3 linked regions of the Homo sapiens genome follow. The protein of the gene in region 2 interacts with the protein of the main gene of each other region in a pairwise test. Each region holds a gene or a part of one and is shown on either strand. Other genes may lie near its edges.

Region 1 (5,526 bases), on a different chromosome or scaffold from region 2:
TGCTATGTTCAGCAGTTGGATTCACAGCGCCAGAAACCTATAACTGCTTGACTTTCCTCCCCACTACACTGCGAAAATTGCCCCTTAAATGTAACTAACCCTAAAACCTCAACAGTATCGTGGCCAGGCGTGGTGGCTCACTACTGTAATACCAACATTAGGCATAGGCGAGGGGATTGAGGCCAGGATATCGAAACTAGCCTGGGAAACACACGGAGACCCGGTCTTTGGAAAAATAATTAGCCTTGCGTGGTGGTGGGCGCGAGGTTCCGGCTAATCGGGAGGCTACAGTGAGCCATGATGACACTGCACTACAGTCTGCGCGACGGCCCATGTCAGTAAGCTCTGGAGCACCTGAAACAAGTTGTGTTGGGTATTTTATTTACTGGAGAGCGATTAGTGACTGATGCCTACTTACAGCGACTAGAGACGCATGCTCCGATAGCAGCACAAACTCAGCAGGCGCGAACAAATGGTAAAGAGAAACTGGGCAAACAAGCATCACGGCTCCTCAGCTGAGAAAGTGGGGGCCCTAAAAAGGGCCTTTTGTTGATAGAAAGGGACGCTCAACCACCGAAACCGTAGAGGGTGCGGCCCTGGCGCTTGAGCGCGTAGACCACATCCATGGCGGTGACCGTCTTGCGCTTGGCGTGCTCTGTATAGGTCACGGCGTCCCGGATCACGTTCTCCAGGAACACCTTCAGCACCCCGCGAGTCTCCTCGTAGATGAGGCCGGAGATGCGCTTCACGCCGCCGCGGCGAGCAAGGCGCCGGATGGCCGGCTTGGTGATGCCCTGGATATTGTCGCGCAGTACTTTACGGTGGCGCTTAGCGCCGCCTTTGCCAAGACCCTTCCCGCCTTTGCCGCGGCCAGACATGACGAGCAAGAGGAGTCTCACCCAACGCTTTGTGAGGACTCTGGCCTGAGGCAGCGCCTTTATACGACAGTTGGCGGACCGAACTGAGAACCTGAAAGAAGTCGGCGGGAAGTCCCGCCCCGGTGGGGGAGGGGAAATCTAAAGGGCCAAACCGAAATAGGGGGAAAAAAAAAGCGAGCTTCTTGTTTCCGTGTTCTGAATTTTGTAACGTGCATAGTATTTTGTTACCACGTTATGAGGCTTTAAAAAATTGCTTTTGAACGCAGAAGATATACATCAATACTGTGGGAAATACAAGAAAGGACAAGAAATTAAGAAACTACAATGTTATCCCATCACACAGGCTAGTTAATCATGTATTTTGCAGAGCAGTTGCACATATTTTTCCAAGAAAATGTATACAGTGTTGTATATGGAGTTTTGTAACCTCCTTATATTGATTATAATTTAACCAATTTCTATTAAAGAGATAAAAGTGATGTTTTGGTGTCTATGTTTCTTAGGAATTATCAATAGTTATAATCAGTTCCCCAGCAATTTTTTAATCGGCTGTATTTTAAAAATAATGTTTTCCACATTCAACATAAATGTACTTTTTCTCTATACTTGGGACCAATATTGAAATTTATGATTTTATTACACCAAAATTTAAATTTTATTACATTAATATTTAAAATTGTATTAGAGGTCTCATGATTTGGTACTACGGGTCTCCGCATTATTTCCTTTCCAAATTTCCTAATCTGTTTCACCAAGGTTTCTGGACAACTTTAGAGACCTTTTGTGAAGTTTGAATAAAATCTCTTCGAGATTTTGATAATTGCATTAGCTTTAGGACTTAATTGGAATAGAATTAAAATCCTTAAAACAAGCTCTTATAACTAGAAAATTGGTGTTTGTAGGTTTTGTGTGTGGGGTTTTTTTTTTTTTTTGGAAGGAGTCTCGCTCTGTCGTCAGGCCGGAGGGCAGTGGTGCAATCTCGGCTCACTGCAACCTCCACCTCCCGGGTTCAAGCGATTCTCATGCCTCAACCTCCGGATTAGCGCGGACTACAGGCATGCGCCACCACGCCCAGCTAATTTTTTGTATTTTTAGTAAAGAACAAGTTTCACCATGTTGGACAGGATGCTCTTGATCTCTTGACATCGTGATCCGCCCGCCTCAGCCTCCCAAAGTGCTGGGATTACAGGCGTGAGCCGCTTCGCTTGGACGCTTGTAGGTTTTTAAAAAGACACTTTTATATGACCCAACTAAAGATTTGTTATCAACCATTATGGAGCAACTTTGATTCCGTATATTTGATTTTCTTTCTTATTAATAAATACAGGGTTATACTCTGAATTTTTTTTTTTTTTTTTTTTTTTGTGGAGACGGAGTCTCGCCCTTTCGCTCAGGCTGGAGTGCAATGGCCCAATCTTGGCTCACTGCAACCTCCACCTCCCGGGTTCAAGCGATTCTCCCACCTCAGCCTCCCCTGAGTAGCTGGGATTACAGGCACTCACCACCACGCCCGGCTAATTTTTTTGTATCTTTAGTAGAGACGGGGTTTCACCATGTTGGCCAGGCTAGTCTCCAACTCCCGACCTCGTGATCCATATGCCTCGGCCTCCCAATGTGCTGGGATTACAGGCTTGAGCCACTGCGCTCGGCCACTCTGAAATTATTTTAACATCAATGAAAATTATAAAACTCCTATAACTATTCTAATATAATCTCTTAGTATTCAATTCTTTGTTTAGAAAGTAGTTAAGAGTTGAAACTCTGGAAATAGAAAACTTTGGTTTTAGATTAAATGTTTACCTTTCAGACTCGAGCTGACTTGTTACCGATCAGACACGAGGTGACTTGTTTATTCTTTTTAAATCTTTGCTCATCTACAAAGTTAGAATAGGATAGTGACGGTACTGTTGGGGTGCAGAATGATTCCCCAAAATGTGGTTCTTGGGCATGCTGAGCGCTTTTGAACATTGAAAGGCCTCAGAAATAAGCTTCAGAATCAAAGCCCCTCTAACTTCGTCTTCTTTCCCATACATGCGAAGGGACTCTGACATTTCCTAATCGGACCAAGAAAATTTCTTACCAGAAGTAACAATTGCCTTCTATCCCCTCCCTGTTATTTCATTATTGCAGAAAAGAATACTGAATATGGATTTTTCAAGATAATGTCTGCCTCTCGGTCTCATTTAAATTACCAAGACATACTAGGTGCTGTGGCTCCTCCCACTAATCCCAGCACTGTGGGAGGTCGAGGCAGGTGGATCCCTTGAGCTCAGGAGTTCGAGACCAGCCTGGCCAACATGGCGAATCCCTGTCTCTACAAAATATACAAAAAATTAGCCAGGTGGTGTCACATGCCTGTAATCCCAGCTACTTGGGAGGCTGAGGCAGGAGAATCACTTGAACCTGGGAGGCGGAGGTTGCAGTGAGCCGAGATTGCACCATTGCACTCCAACCTGGGCAACAAGAGTGAAACTCTGTCTGAAAAAAAAAAAAATTAGCCAGTTGTAGTGGTGCATGCCTGTGGTCGCAGCTACTAGGGAGCCTGAGGTAGGAGGATCACTTGAATCCCAGAGGTGGAGGTTGCAGTGAGTGGAGACTGTGCCACTGCACTCCAGCCTGGGTGACAGCCTGGGAGACGGATTAAGACCCCATCTCAAAATAAATAAATAAATTATGAAGACAATCATTTACAAGCTAATTTCTTTCTGTGGCCCATTTATTTTCCATAACAAGCCTTTATTGCCCCTCAAAGGAATTGTCTACCTTTCCCATCTCCTCCTTCCCCTATGAAAAAAGTTACATAAGCTTCTGTACTCCTTTAGGGACTGGGGTAATCACTTTGTAATTCTCCCTCGTGCACATTATTAAATTTCTGTGCCATTTCTCCCATTATTCTGTCTTTTGTCAGTTGATTTTCTATGAAACTTCCCTTAGCCCCTACAGTATTTACCTCTTTGAGGTACTGTAAGAATTAATGGAGGCCAGTCTCAGTAGCCTGCCTGTAGTCCCAGCTACTCTGGAGGCTGAGGTGGGGGGATTGCATGTGTTCAGGAGTGGGAGGATTGTGCAAGCTCAGGAGTCAGAGATCAGCCTGGGCAACATCACAAGACCTTCATCTAAAAAATAAAAAAAATTAAAAAAATAAAACAATGGAGATAATGTATGTAAAATATTAAGCAGAAAGCCAACCTCTATTTAATATACGTAATTTTTTTCTTTACAACTAATTTACAAATATTTTGTTTATATTATACTTTAAATATGTTAATACATCAATTTATCTAATTATGTATAACACATTAAGTAGTTAATTTAAATAACAAATATTTATTTTTAGTACATATTGTCAATGTCGGGGCTCAGAAACCAATACCCCAAACTATGGCATGGTGACAAGCTGAACTGCAGAAGCCTCAAAGTCTCTTTGACCTTCTCCCACTCCCCAACCTTTGTCTTCCTGTTATCTGGACTCACCAAAAATGAGTCCCTGTAAGACGAATGTAATCACACCCGAACAGCTCATTTCACAAGATAAGGTACAAGTTTAATTTCTTTTCCCTGATCCATTCATTCTTCCTAGTAATCCCCTCAAATGAATTCCTCTTCTCCCTCCCTCAAACTGTTTTTCAAGGATGGTATATAAACTTCTGAACCACGTTCTGGGGTGGGCAATCACTGATTCTCCCCATGCACATTGTAAATTTGTCTGCCTTTTTTTCTATTAATCTACCTCATGTCTGATTTTTCAACAAACCTTCAGAGGGCATCAAATCAGTAAGGACATTCATTTAATTCAATATTTCACAGATGATATAATACCATGAAGTGATAAGGCACTATAAATGTTCCTAATTGCTCCTTGCCCCTTGGATCTCTCTGATCTTTAGGTTGCCTCCTCTAGTTTACTTACTGTGAAGCTACTCATTTAACAGCTCCTCCATTTTCCTTTACATGTGTATGTGGAATTATAAACAATGATATATCACACTTGTATATTTTATTTTGCTTAATACATAAGTTTGCATGTCAATGTTTTGATTATGAGTACATTGATTTGAGTTTGCATAAATAACACCCAAAATTATAATAATTATAAAGCAAAAGTTACTTTACAAGCTGTTTAGCTTAAAGAATTTTACTTCTGGAACTCACGAACTCTGAAAAATATTACTTAGCTAGCTTTCATGATTAAATGGTGGTTCTTGGGAGAAACAGAATCAATGGAATAATTTTATTATCAACTTCAATGATCATAACAGCATATTTTATTTAAAAACTTATTTTAATTTCAAAAATCTTACAGGCCTTCTATGGAGCTGTATCATTTACTCTATATTGAGAAACAATTATTGAAAATTTATACACATAAATAACACAGATGACATTTTAAAAGGGAACAAATGAATTAATTCATTGAAATCAGGATGGAGTCCTCAACATCAAATAATAAATTTTTTTAAACAATGTGATATTTATGATTTTTGTGATTGCTGTTTTATTCCAAGAAATACTAGTTGTATGTGATTGCAATCAAGACTTAAATCTAGGAAATAAAAATGTGTGAAGAGACTCAAAAATTAATGTATTTCAATGGACTGGAGATCCTGTAGAAATTCATTTTCATTAACATGTCTGTATGAGGAAAACA
Region 2 (4,917 bases):
TGTCAGCTCACCGCAACCTCCGCTTCCCAGGTTAAAGCAATTCTCCTGCCTCAGCCTCCCGAGTAGCTGGAACTACAGGCACGCGCCACCACACCCAGCTAACTTTTGTATTTTTAGTAGCTATGGGGTTTTACTATGTTGGCCAGGCTGGTCTCGAACTCCTGATCTCAAGTGATCTGCCCACCTAGGCCTCCCAAAGTGCTGGGATTACTGTGAGCCCACGCTCCCAAAGTGCTGGGATTACAAAGGCATGAGCCACTGTGCCCAGCCCCCTGCCGTTTTTTTTTTTTTTTGAGAGGGAGTTTTGCTCTTGTTGCCCAGGCTGGAGTGCAATGGCACAATCTTGGCTCACTGCAACCTCTGCCTCCTGGATTCAAGCATTCTCCTACCTCAGCCTCCCAAGTAGCTGGATTACAGGCATATGCCACCATGCCCAGCTAATTTTTGTATTTTTAGTAGAGATGGGGTTTCACCATGTTAGCCAGGCTGGTCTCGAACTCCTGACCTCACCTGATCCATCTGCCTCAGCCTCTCAGAGTGCTGGGATTACAGGTGTGAGCTACCACGCTTGGCCCCTTTTTTTCTTTTTCTTTTTTTTTTTTGAGATGGAGTCTCACTCTGTCACCCAGGCTGGAGTGCAGTGTCGCAATCTTGGCTCACTGCAACCTCTGTCTCCCGGGTTCAAGTGATTCTCGTGCCTCAGCCTCCTGAGTAGCTGGGATTACAGGCGTGCACCATATCGCCTGGCTAATTTTTGTATTTATTTATTTATTTATTTATTTATTTTTTGAGACGGAGTCTCGCTCTGTCTCCCAGGCAGTGGCACTATCTCGGCTCACTGCAAACTCTGCCCCCTGGGTTCACACCATTCTCCTGCCTCAGCCTCCCGAGTAGCTGGGACCACAGGCACCCGCCACCACGCCTGGCTAATTTTTTGTGTTTTTAGTAGAGATAGGATTTTACCTTGTTAGGATGGTCTCGATCTCCTGACCTCGTGATCTGCCCTCCTTGGCCACCCAAAGTGCTGGGATTACAGGCGTGAGCCACTGCTCCCGGCCTAATTTTTGTATTTTTAGTGGAGAGGGGCTTTCACCATGTTGGCCAGGCTGGTCTCAAACTCCTGACCTCAGGTGATCCGCCCACCTCGGCCTCCCAAAGTGCTGGGATTACAGGCATGAGCCACCGTGCCTGGCCTTTTTTTTTCTTTTAACTCTCACAACAACCCTATCTTCATTTTACAGATGTGGAAGTTGAGGCACAGAACAGTTAAATAAAAACAATTTAAAAATTGTGGTAAAAGATGCATAACCTAAATTTACCATGTAACCATTTTAACGCATATAATTCAGTAGCCTTTTAGCACAATGGCAGTGTTGTGCAACCATCACCACTACCTAGTTCCAGAATCTTTTCATCACCCTAAAAGGAAACCCTGTGCTCACCAAGTAGTCATTCTCCATTCCTTCCTTCTCTGAGCTCTTGGCAACCACTAATTTGCTTTCTGTCTCTGTGGGTTTATCTGTTCTGGATAGGCAAATGTGAGTTGCCTGTAAAGGGAATCATAACAATATGTGGCCTTTTGTGTCTGGCTTCTTCCACTTAGCGTATTTTCAAGGTGCATCCATGCCGTAGCATGTATCAGCACTGCATTCCTTTTTATGGCTGAATAATTCCATCATATGCATATACCACATTTTGTTTTTCCATTCATCCATTGATGGACATTTGATGTTGTGTCTACCTTTTGGTGATTGTAAATAGTGCTGCTGTGAGTATCCTTGTTTTATTTGAACAGCTGTTTTCAGTTCTTTTGGGTATATGTTTAGGACTGGGATTGCTGGGTCATATGGTAATTCTATATTTATGTTATGGAACTAGTTAAGTAAATTTCAGCTCAATCACACTTTTTTTTTTTTTTTTTTTTTTTTTTTTGGAGACAGGGTCTCACTCTGTGCAATGGCACGATCTTGGCTCACTGCAGCCTCCACCTCCCAGGTTCAAGCGATCCTCCCACCTCAGCCTCTTGAGTAGCTGGGATTACAGGTGCATGCCACTGCACCCAGCTAAATTTTTTGAATTTTTTGTAGAGACAGGGTTTGCGACATTGTTCAGGCTGGCCTTGAACTCCTGAGCTCAAGCAGTCCACCCACCTTGGCCTCCCAAAGTGCTAGGTTTACAAGGGTGAGCTACCGTGCCCGGCCCAGTCCGATGTTTGGTAATTGACAAAACACGGATTTGAAATCAGACAGTCTGGCTTTAGACCCCTTGCTCTGAACTATCACTTTATTGCTTATCACTGTTACTGTTGTTCCAGTATTAAGAGCATGGCTGTTTTAGGCTGATTGCCTTCTCTCCTGGGACCTGGCATCACCAAAGCACTATGTGCTCGGAAATCCATTATCTTTCCCCAGTCTTTCCTCCGTTATTGTGAGGCCTTTTGAAAATGTACCTTCCGGCCTCCCTGATGTCAGAGGGAGGCACTAGGTGCTGCCCATTGTGATTAGATGGGTTCTGGTCTTCTGCCTGCAGTGCCCCTGCTCCCCTTTGTCCCTGTGCTCACCTCTAACATGCTCTTTGAGGCTGAAGGGAGGAATAAAAGAGCAAAAACAACCGGGCACAGTGGCTTACGCCTGTAATCCCAGCACTTTGGGAGGCCGAGGCGGGTGGATCACAAGGTCAGGGGTTCAAGACCAGCCTGGCCAAGATGGTGAAACCCCGTCTCTACTAAAAATACAAAAAAATTAGCTGGGCGTGGTGGCGGGCGCTTGTAATCCCAGCTGCTCAGGAGGCTGAGGCAGAGAATTGCTTGAACCTGGGAGGTAGAGGTTGCAGTGAGCCGAGATGGTGCCATTGCATTCCAGCCTGGGCGACAGAGCGAGACTCTGTCTCAAAAAAAAAAAAAAAAGAGCAAAAACTTAATTCAGGCTTGTATTGTGAAAGTGTATTATTTATCAGAGGCCCTTTGCCTCAGTGACATACAAACCACCTGAAAATGTTAACTGTCCCTAGCCCTCTTTGTAAATTAAAGGACCTGACAATTAATGCCTTGTATAAGACAAAACGTCTTATTGAAAATAAATTATCAGCTCTTTTAAAAACATACAAAGAAGTGCATTTTTAAAAAAGTGCTCGGTGGCTAAAGAAGACTCTGTGCACTTGTTTTACTACCTTCGTAGTAAGTCTGCCCAAAATTTACTGAGCACAGAGCAGGTCCTCTTTGGTTTGTCACTAAGGCCATCTTCTCTTTGTCAATTTAGCCCGTGGAACACAGAGCATTCCTAATGACAGTCCTGCCCGGGGTGAGGGCACCCATTCTGAAGAGGAAGGCTTTGCCATGGATGAGGAGGACTCTGATGGAGAACTGAATACCTGGGAGCTGTCAGAAGGGACAAACTGTCCACCCAAGGAACAGCCTGGCGATCTTTTTAATGAGGACTGGGACTCGGAGTTGAAAGCAGATCAAGGGAATCCATATGGTAGGTGTGGAGTCTCTGGGGGTCCTGAACTAGGCCTTCTCAGACACACCTGTCAGACCAGCCCTGAAGGCAGTTTGGAACAGGGGTCCACATCTATGAGCTTAGGCTGGTATCTGTTACAGGTCTCCAATTTCTGTGACACCTTCTCTTTTATATTGAAAAAATCCAAATTTTGCATTTGACTCCATAATGTATCACTGTTTTAAAGTCAAAACTGTTACTCTCTCCAAAAATCTCTGCTATGAATTGAGCAGCTGCAGATAGAAGTGCTGTGTTATCCAGTTTGCTTCTTCACTGCTAAGAACCCTTGTCTGAGAAGCATAGCTTCTCAGCTGTTCCGAATGAACGCATTTACAATTCTTCAGGAAAGGAGAACTGTGTGTGTTTTTAAACAAAATAAGTGCAAGGATCTGTCCCCTAGACATACCTTTTTGGCTGTCCGTTTTTACCTTCCTTCCTTCCCTCCTTCCTTCCCTTAATCTGTCTTTTAAAACTGCCTGCAGATGCTGACGACATCCAGGAGAGCATTTCTCAAGAGCTTAAACCTTGGGTGTGCTGTGCCCCACAAGGAGACATGATCTATGACCCCAGCTGGCACCATCCGCCTCCACTGATACCCTATTATTCCAAGATGGTCTTTGAAACAGGACAGTTTGACGATGCTGAAGATTGAGTGTGGAGCTTTCTGCCTTGTAGGTGGGCGGGCCTCCACGTCAAGATCTCTTTTCCTGTCTTGGAGGTGAAAAGTCATATCTGAGAAAATGTTTGCAGTGACCCCTAGTCTGGGGTACACAGACCAGTGTTCCTTATTGACAGTGTTCAATAAGGCCCCGTCATTCTCGCCAGTCTGTTGTTGTTCTTAATGGGCTCCTCCTTGAAATGTGTGTGTGTTTGTGTCAAGAGGAGTTGTGTTCTTTGTAAATAAAGGTTAAAAAGAGAAACCAGTATGCTTCGTCTGCTTTTTTCCCATTTATTTATTTATGGAGACAGTCTCACTGTGTCACGCAGGCTGGAGTGCAGCAGCGCGAACTTGGCTCGTTGGAACCTCCACCTCCTGGGTTTAAGCGATTTTTGTGCCTCAGCCTCCTGAGTAGCTGGGACTATAGGTGCTCGCCACCACACCCGGCTAATTTTTTGTATTTTTAGTAGAGATGGGGTTTCACCACGTTGGCCAGGCTGTTCTCAAATTCCTGGCCTCAAGTAATCCACCCGCCTTGGCCTCCCAAAGTGCTGGGATTACAGGTGTGAGCCACCGTGCCCAGCCTTCACTACTTCATTTAAAGTCCCTGAATGACATTTTAAAGATTCAAACGCTTGGAGGCTTAAAACTACTCTGTGAAAGAAAAAAAATTTTAGTTTTGCTTCTGTAGATCTAGCACTGTTGACCAAGGATTGGAATCCAGGAGACACTGGTGATTTTGTAGCTGATTGTTTTCCTGTT
Region 3 (5,019 bases), on a different chromosome or scaffold from region 2:
TTTCTCCAGCAGCTACAGTCTTTGCTACCTTGTTTCTCTGATAGCCATGAAGAATGTTAGCAGCAGTTTGCCATGTTTCCTTACAGAAATACAGAAAACACAGGCCAAGCGTGGTGGCTCACGCCTGTAATCCCAGCACTTTCGGAGGCGGAGGAGGGAAATCTCTTTTGAGCTTGAGTTCAAGACCAGCCTGGGAAACATGGCGAAAACCCATCGCTGCAAAAAATACAAAGATTAGCCGGGTGTTGGTGGCGCAAGCCGGTTGCCCCAGCTACGCAAGAGGCTGAGGCACAAGAATCGTTTGAACCCGGGAGGCGGAGACTGCAGATTGCCGAGATCGCGCCATTGATTACTCCAGCATGGGCGACACAGCAAGAGTGAAAATAAACTTTAATACACTATCCTCACCGGCCAGTAAGATATGAAGCCAAGGCGTAATAAGACCATTTAACTTGAAAACCGGAGCTACTAAACACGTGAAACTACACTTTTAGCAGTGACTACTACTCTTTCTCCTGAGTGGATAGGTGGCCCTGAAAAGGGCCGTTGGTTTTGCGGTAGTGTACTGTAGAGGTAAGCTCAGCCGCCGAAGCCATAAAGAGTGCGTCCCTGGCGCTTGAGCGCGTACACCACGTCCATGGCTGTGACTGTCTTGCGTTTGGCGTGTTCCGTGTAGGTGACAGCATCGCGGATTACATTTTCCAGGAAAACTTTCAGCACTCCGCGAGTTTCCTCATAAATGAGGCCAGAAATACGCTTGACGCCGCCGCGGCGAGCCAGGCGGCGGATAGCGGGCTTGGTGATTCCTTGGATATTGTCACGCAATACCTTACGGTGACGCTTGGCGCCACCCTTACCTAGACCCTTTCCGCCCTTACCGCGGCCAGACATCTTGAAACCACAGCTGTTAAATCTGTAACGCAATACGTCTGGCAGAGCCACGCAGCACTTTTATAATAGCATGACGGACCTGTTTGAAAACCTCATGAGAAGGGGCGGGAACCACAGTCAGTTCCCGCCCTTCTGTGCAATTCTCCCTTGCTCAGACTGGAGGAGACCAAGAGGGGCCTGAGGCAACAAAAGAGCCTCAGCTGGGATTTAATAAATACTGCTAGGTATATATATATATATACACACACACTATACTTGCAGCCATTAACTGAGCCATCAGTTCATAAACTTTCGACAAAGAAGCCTGACAATTGTCCCCCACTTTTCCCAGAATATCAAATAATTAGTACTGTTTCCCTCACAGGGTGCTTTTTTTTTTTTTTTTTTTTTTTTTTTTTGAGACGGGTTCTTGCTCTGTTGCCCAGGCTGGAATGCAGTGGCACGATCTAGGCTCACTGCATCCTCTGCCTCCCGGATTCAAGCAATTCTCCTGCCTCAGCCTCCCGAGTAGCTGGGGTTACAGGCGCCCGCCACCATGCCCAGCTAATTTTGGTATTTTTTTAGTAGAGACGGGGTTTCACCATAGGCCAGGATGGTCTCGAACTCCTGACCTTGTGATCCACCTGCCTCGGCCTCCCAAAGTGCTAGGATTACAGGCGTGAGCCACCGCGCCGGGCCATAAGGTGCTTTCAAAGTATTTTAAGTAACTCATATCTTTATTGTCTCTGAGATTATTTTTATTGATTTATGCATTCCTAGTTAACCAAGCAGGGCTCTTTGGCATGCAGGCTAGATAGTGCTACTGAGGGAACTAAAAGTATATGAAAGTTACACATTTAGAGGTCAAATTAGGATAAGATCACCGAGGGCCGATTGAAAACATGACTATGTACACCCGTAAAAGAAAACCTTGTTGGGCTGAAATTTATGAAAATTTATGCTTTGATTGTGCCTTTAATCATGGACAGATTGTAGCTAGCACTGCATCATTCACCATATTCTATTACTCCAGCAAATTGGCATCATAGTATCCCTCCAAACTATCATAGAGACAGCCTGCTTGACATACATGCTGTGGGGGTGACCCTGGGCAAGCTATACTAAGTTTCCTTGTTGTAAATGTATTTTTAAAAATCTAACTTGTAAGTATTTGTTAAGTTGAAACAGATAATCCTATCAAAATGCTTAGAATAGTGTCTAGATTCCAAATAAGCAATGACTAAACATTAATTATGGTATAGTACAATATTGTGGGTGTTTTCAATTCCTATCCTTAAGGTTCACCCTTCTAAAGGGATGAGAGACAGTATTCTAATTTGCTAAAATCTGATTTCGAGAACTCCTCAAAATAATAAATAATTAAAAACTTAACTCATCATTAATCCCCATAAAAAGTTCCAGGTCCTTTGGGTGGAATATTTGGCTTTTCCTTCATGACTTGTGAGAAGAACCAAGTTTATCACAGCTGTTTGCTGTTTATTGAGTTTATGGTACATGGAAAAGATTGCAGAGTAAGGTTCTTAGCCTGGGATACATAGAAAGTCTTCAGGGGATCTGGGAATGAGTATAGAAAAAAAAAAAGTCAAATCTTTTTTTTTTCTTTTTACTATTCTCCAACAGAAACAGCATTTTTTCTGTGTATGAACTCAGGCAACAAACAGTGTAATTGGCAGGACAAGTGCTTCTATTTATATCACATTCTCATTGCCAATATCTCGAAATTTCATTTAAAAATCTCAATCCTAAAGCCGGGTGCAGTGGCTCACGCCTGTAATCCCAGCACTTTGGGAGGCAAAGGCGGGAGGATCACGAGGTCAGGAGATGGAGACAATCCTGGCTAACACAGTGAAACCCCATCTCTACTAAAAATACAAAAAAATTAGCCGGACATGGTGGCGGGCACCTGTAGTCCCAGCTACTCAGGAGGTTGAGACAGGAGAATGGCGTGAACCTGGGAGGTGGAACTTGCAGTGAGCAGAGATCGTGCCACTGCACTCCAGCCTGGGCAAAACAGCAAGACTCCATCTCAAAAAAAAAACAAAAAAACAAAAAAAAACCTCAATCCTTCAAAACTATAATAAGTCTTAGTCATATGGGTAGATTATTATTTAATGTATTAATTTAAAAAGGACATATGCCAGGCCATGGCTTATGCCTGTAACTCCCAGCTCTTTGAAAGGCCCAGATGGGAGGATCACTTGAGGCCAGGAGTTCCAGACCAGTCTAGCCAACATGGCAAAACCATGTCTCTACTAAAAATGCAAAAATTTATCAGGCATGGTGGCGCACAGCTACTTGGGTAGCTAATCGCTTGAACCTGAGAAGCAGAGGATGCACTGAGCCAAGATCGTACCATTGCACTCCAGCCTGGGCAACAGTGAGACTCTGTCTCAAAATCAGTAAGTAAATAAAATAAAAAATTTAAAAGCACATATGTTAATATTTCACCAATTTAGATTTTTTATAATTTGATAATGGCATACTAATATAATTGTTTCACTTTGCATTCCTATATATTATCTAATGCATTTAAAACCACTATTCTGCGCGGGGCATGGTGGCTCATGCCTGTCATCCCAGCACTTTGGGAGGCCGAGGTGGGTGGATCACCTGAGGTCAAGAGGTCGAGACCAGCCTGGCAACGTGGTGAAACCGCGTCTCTACTAAAAATACAAAAATTAGCTGGGAATGGTGGTGCATACCTGTAATCCCAGCTACTTGGGAGACTGAGGCAAGAGAATTGCTTGAACCTGGGAGGCAGAAGTTATAGTGAGACAAGATTAAGTCACTGTAATCCAGCCTGGGTGACGAGTGAAATTCCATCTCAAAAATAAATAAATAAATAAATATTATTCTGGCCGGGTGCGGTGGCTCACGCCTGTAATCCTAGCACTTTGGGAAGCCAAGGCTGGTGGATCACTTGAGCCCAGTTCAAGAGCAGCCTGGGTAACATGGAGAAACCCTGACACTACTAAAAATACAAACATTAGCTGGGCATGGTGGCATGCTCTTGTAATCCCAGCTACATGGGAGGCTGAGGCACAAGAATCACTTGAACCCGGAAGGCAGAGGTTGCAGTGAGCCAAGATTGCACCACTGCACTCCAGCCTGGGCGACAGAGTGAGACTCCATCTCAATAAATAAATAAGTAAATAAATAAAATAAAATCCTTCTTAGAAGGAGAGGCATAGTATGGGCCACTCAGAGCTAAATGGTGAAAACTTGAGCAAGTTACCTATTTTATAATTGATCTGCATCCTCAGTGGTGTATAATGTCTCACCTAGTTATTCAGTTTAAAATGAAAAACAAGAGTCAAGCACTACTATGTCAACAATACTGCACAGGGCATACTGCTGCAGAAAACAATCATTTGGGGAGTAGCCATAAAGGCAAAATAAAGAAATGGAAAGTTAAGGACACTTGAGTTATGTTCTGGTTCCACACAATTCCCTATATGCATTTCTGCAAGTTTTTTTACATAAATATTTGTATGCCGTACTATAATACTAATCTGTACTTTTAGATGTTTGTAAACTACTAGGAAGATTTAAAAGTGGACAAGTATGCAGATAATACGAGACAGATTATAATGGCCTTTTACGAAATCGATGTAGGGGGCCTGGTGCCGTGGCTCATGCCTCTAGTTGCAGCACTGTGGGAGGCGGAGGCGGGCACATCACAGGGTCAGGAGTTAGAGATCAGCCTGGCCAATACAGTGAAACCCTGTCACTAGTGTCTACTAAAAATACAAAAATTAGCTGGGCGTGGTGGCGCGCGCCTGTAGTCCTAGCTACTCAGGAGGCTGAGGCAGAAGAATCGCTTGAACCTGGGAGACGGAGGTTGCAGTGAGCCAAGATCACGCCACTGCACTCCAGGCTGGGCAACGGAGTGAGAGTCCATCTCAAAAAGAGAAAAAAAAGAAAGACATCAATGTAAGAATTCAAAACAGAGAGAGATCTCATCTATTTTGAGAGATGGGGAATGAAAAATATAAAAATTTCAAAGTATGTCATTAGATTAGTTTGAAGTTTAAAACAGGGTGGGGGAGAGAGAAAAAAAGAAGAAAAAAACTGAAAAAAGATACTCTGCAAGGTAATATAATTAGACCAAGATCACATAGCTGCTAA

Evidence for each region. The genes of interacting proteins can lie anywhere in the genome.
Region 1: the proteins of COPRS (region 2) and H4C12 interact in binary tests that used the Homo sapiens proteins (3 or more experiments, as listed by UniProt).
Region 3: the proteins of COPRS (region 2) and H4C4 interact in binary tests that used the Homo sapiens proteins (3 or more experiments, as listed by UniProt).

The regions. Positions count from the first base shown.
Region 1 is NC_000006.12:27,830,650-27,836,175, forward strand, and holds H4C12 (histone H4), read right to left. Parts: upstream 912-5,526; 5' UTR 879-911; coding exon 567-878; 3' UTR 525-566; downstream 1-524. UniProt on the Homo sapiens protein: Core component of nucleosome. Nucleosomes wrap and compact DNA into chromatin, limiting DNA accessibility to the cellular machineries which require DNA as a template.
Region 2 is NC_000017.11:31,851,371-31,856,287, reverse strand, and holds the end of COPRS (coordinator of PRMT5 and differentiation stimulator), read left to right. Parts: intron 1-3,257; coding exon 3,258-3,476; intron 3,477-3,979; coding exon 3,980-4,149; 3' UTR 4,150-4,417; downstream 4,418-4,917. UniProt on the Homo sapiens protein: Histone-binding protein required for histone H4 methyltransferase activity of PRMT5.
Region 3 is NC_000006.12:26,188,186-26,193,204, forward strand, and holds H4C4 (histone H4), read right to left. Parts: upstream 928-5,019; 5' UTR 892-927; coding exon 580-891; 3' UTR 525-579; downstream 1-524. UniProt on the Homo sapiens protein: Core component of nucleosome. Nucleosomes wrap and compact DNA into chromatin, limiting DNA accessibility to the cellular machineries which require DNA as a template.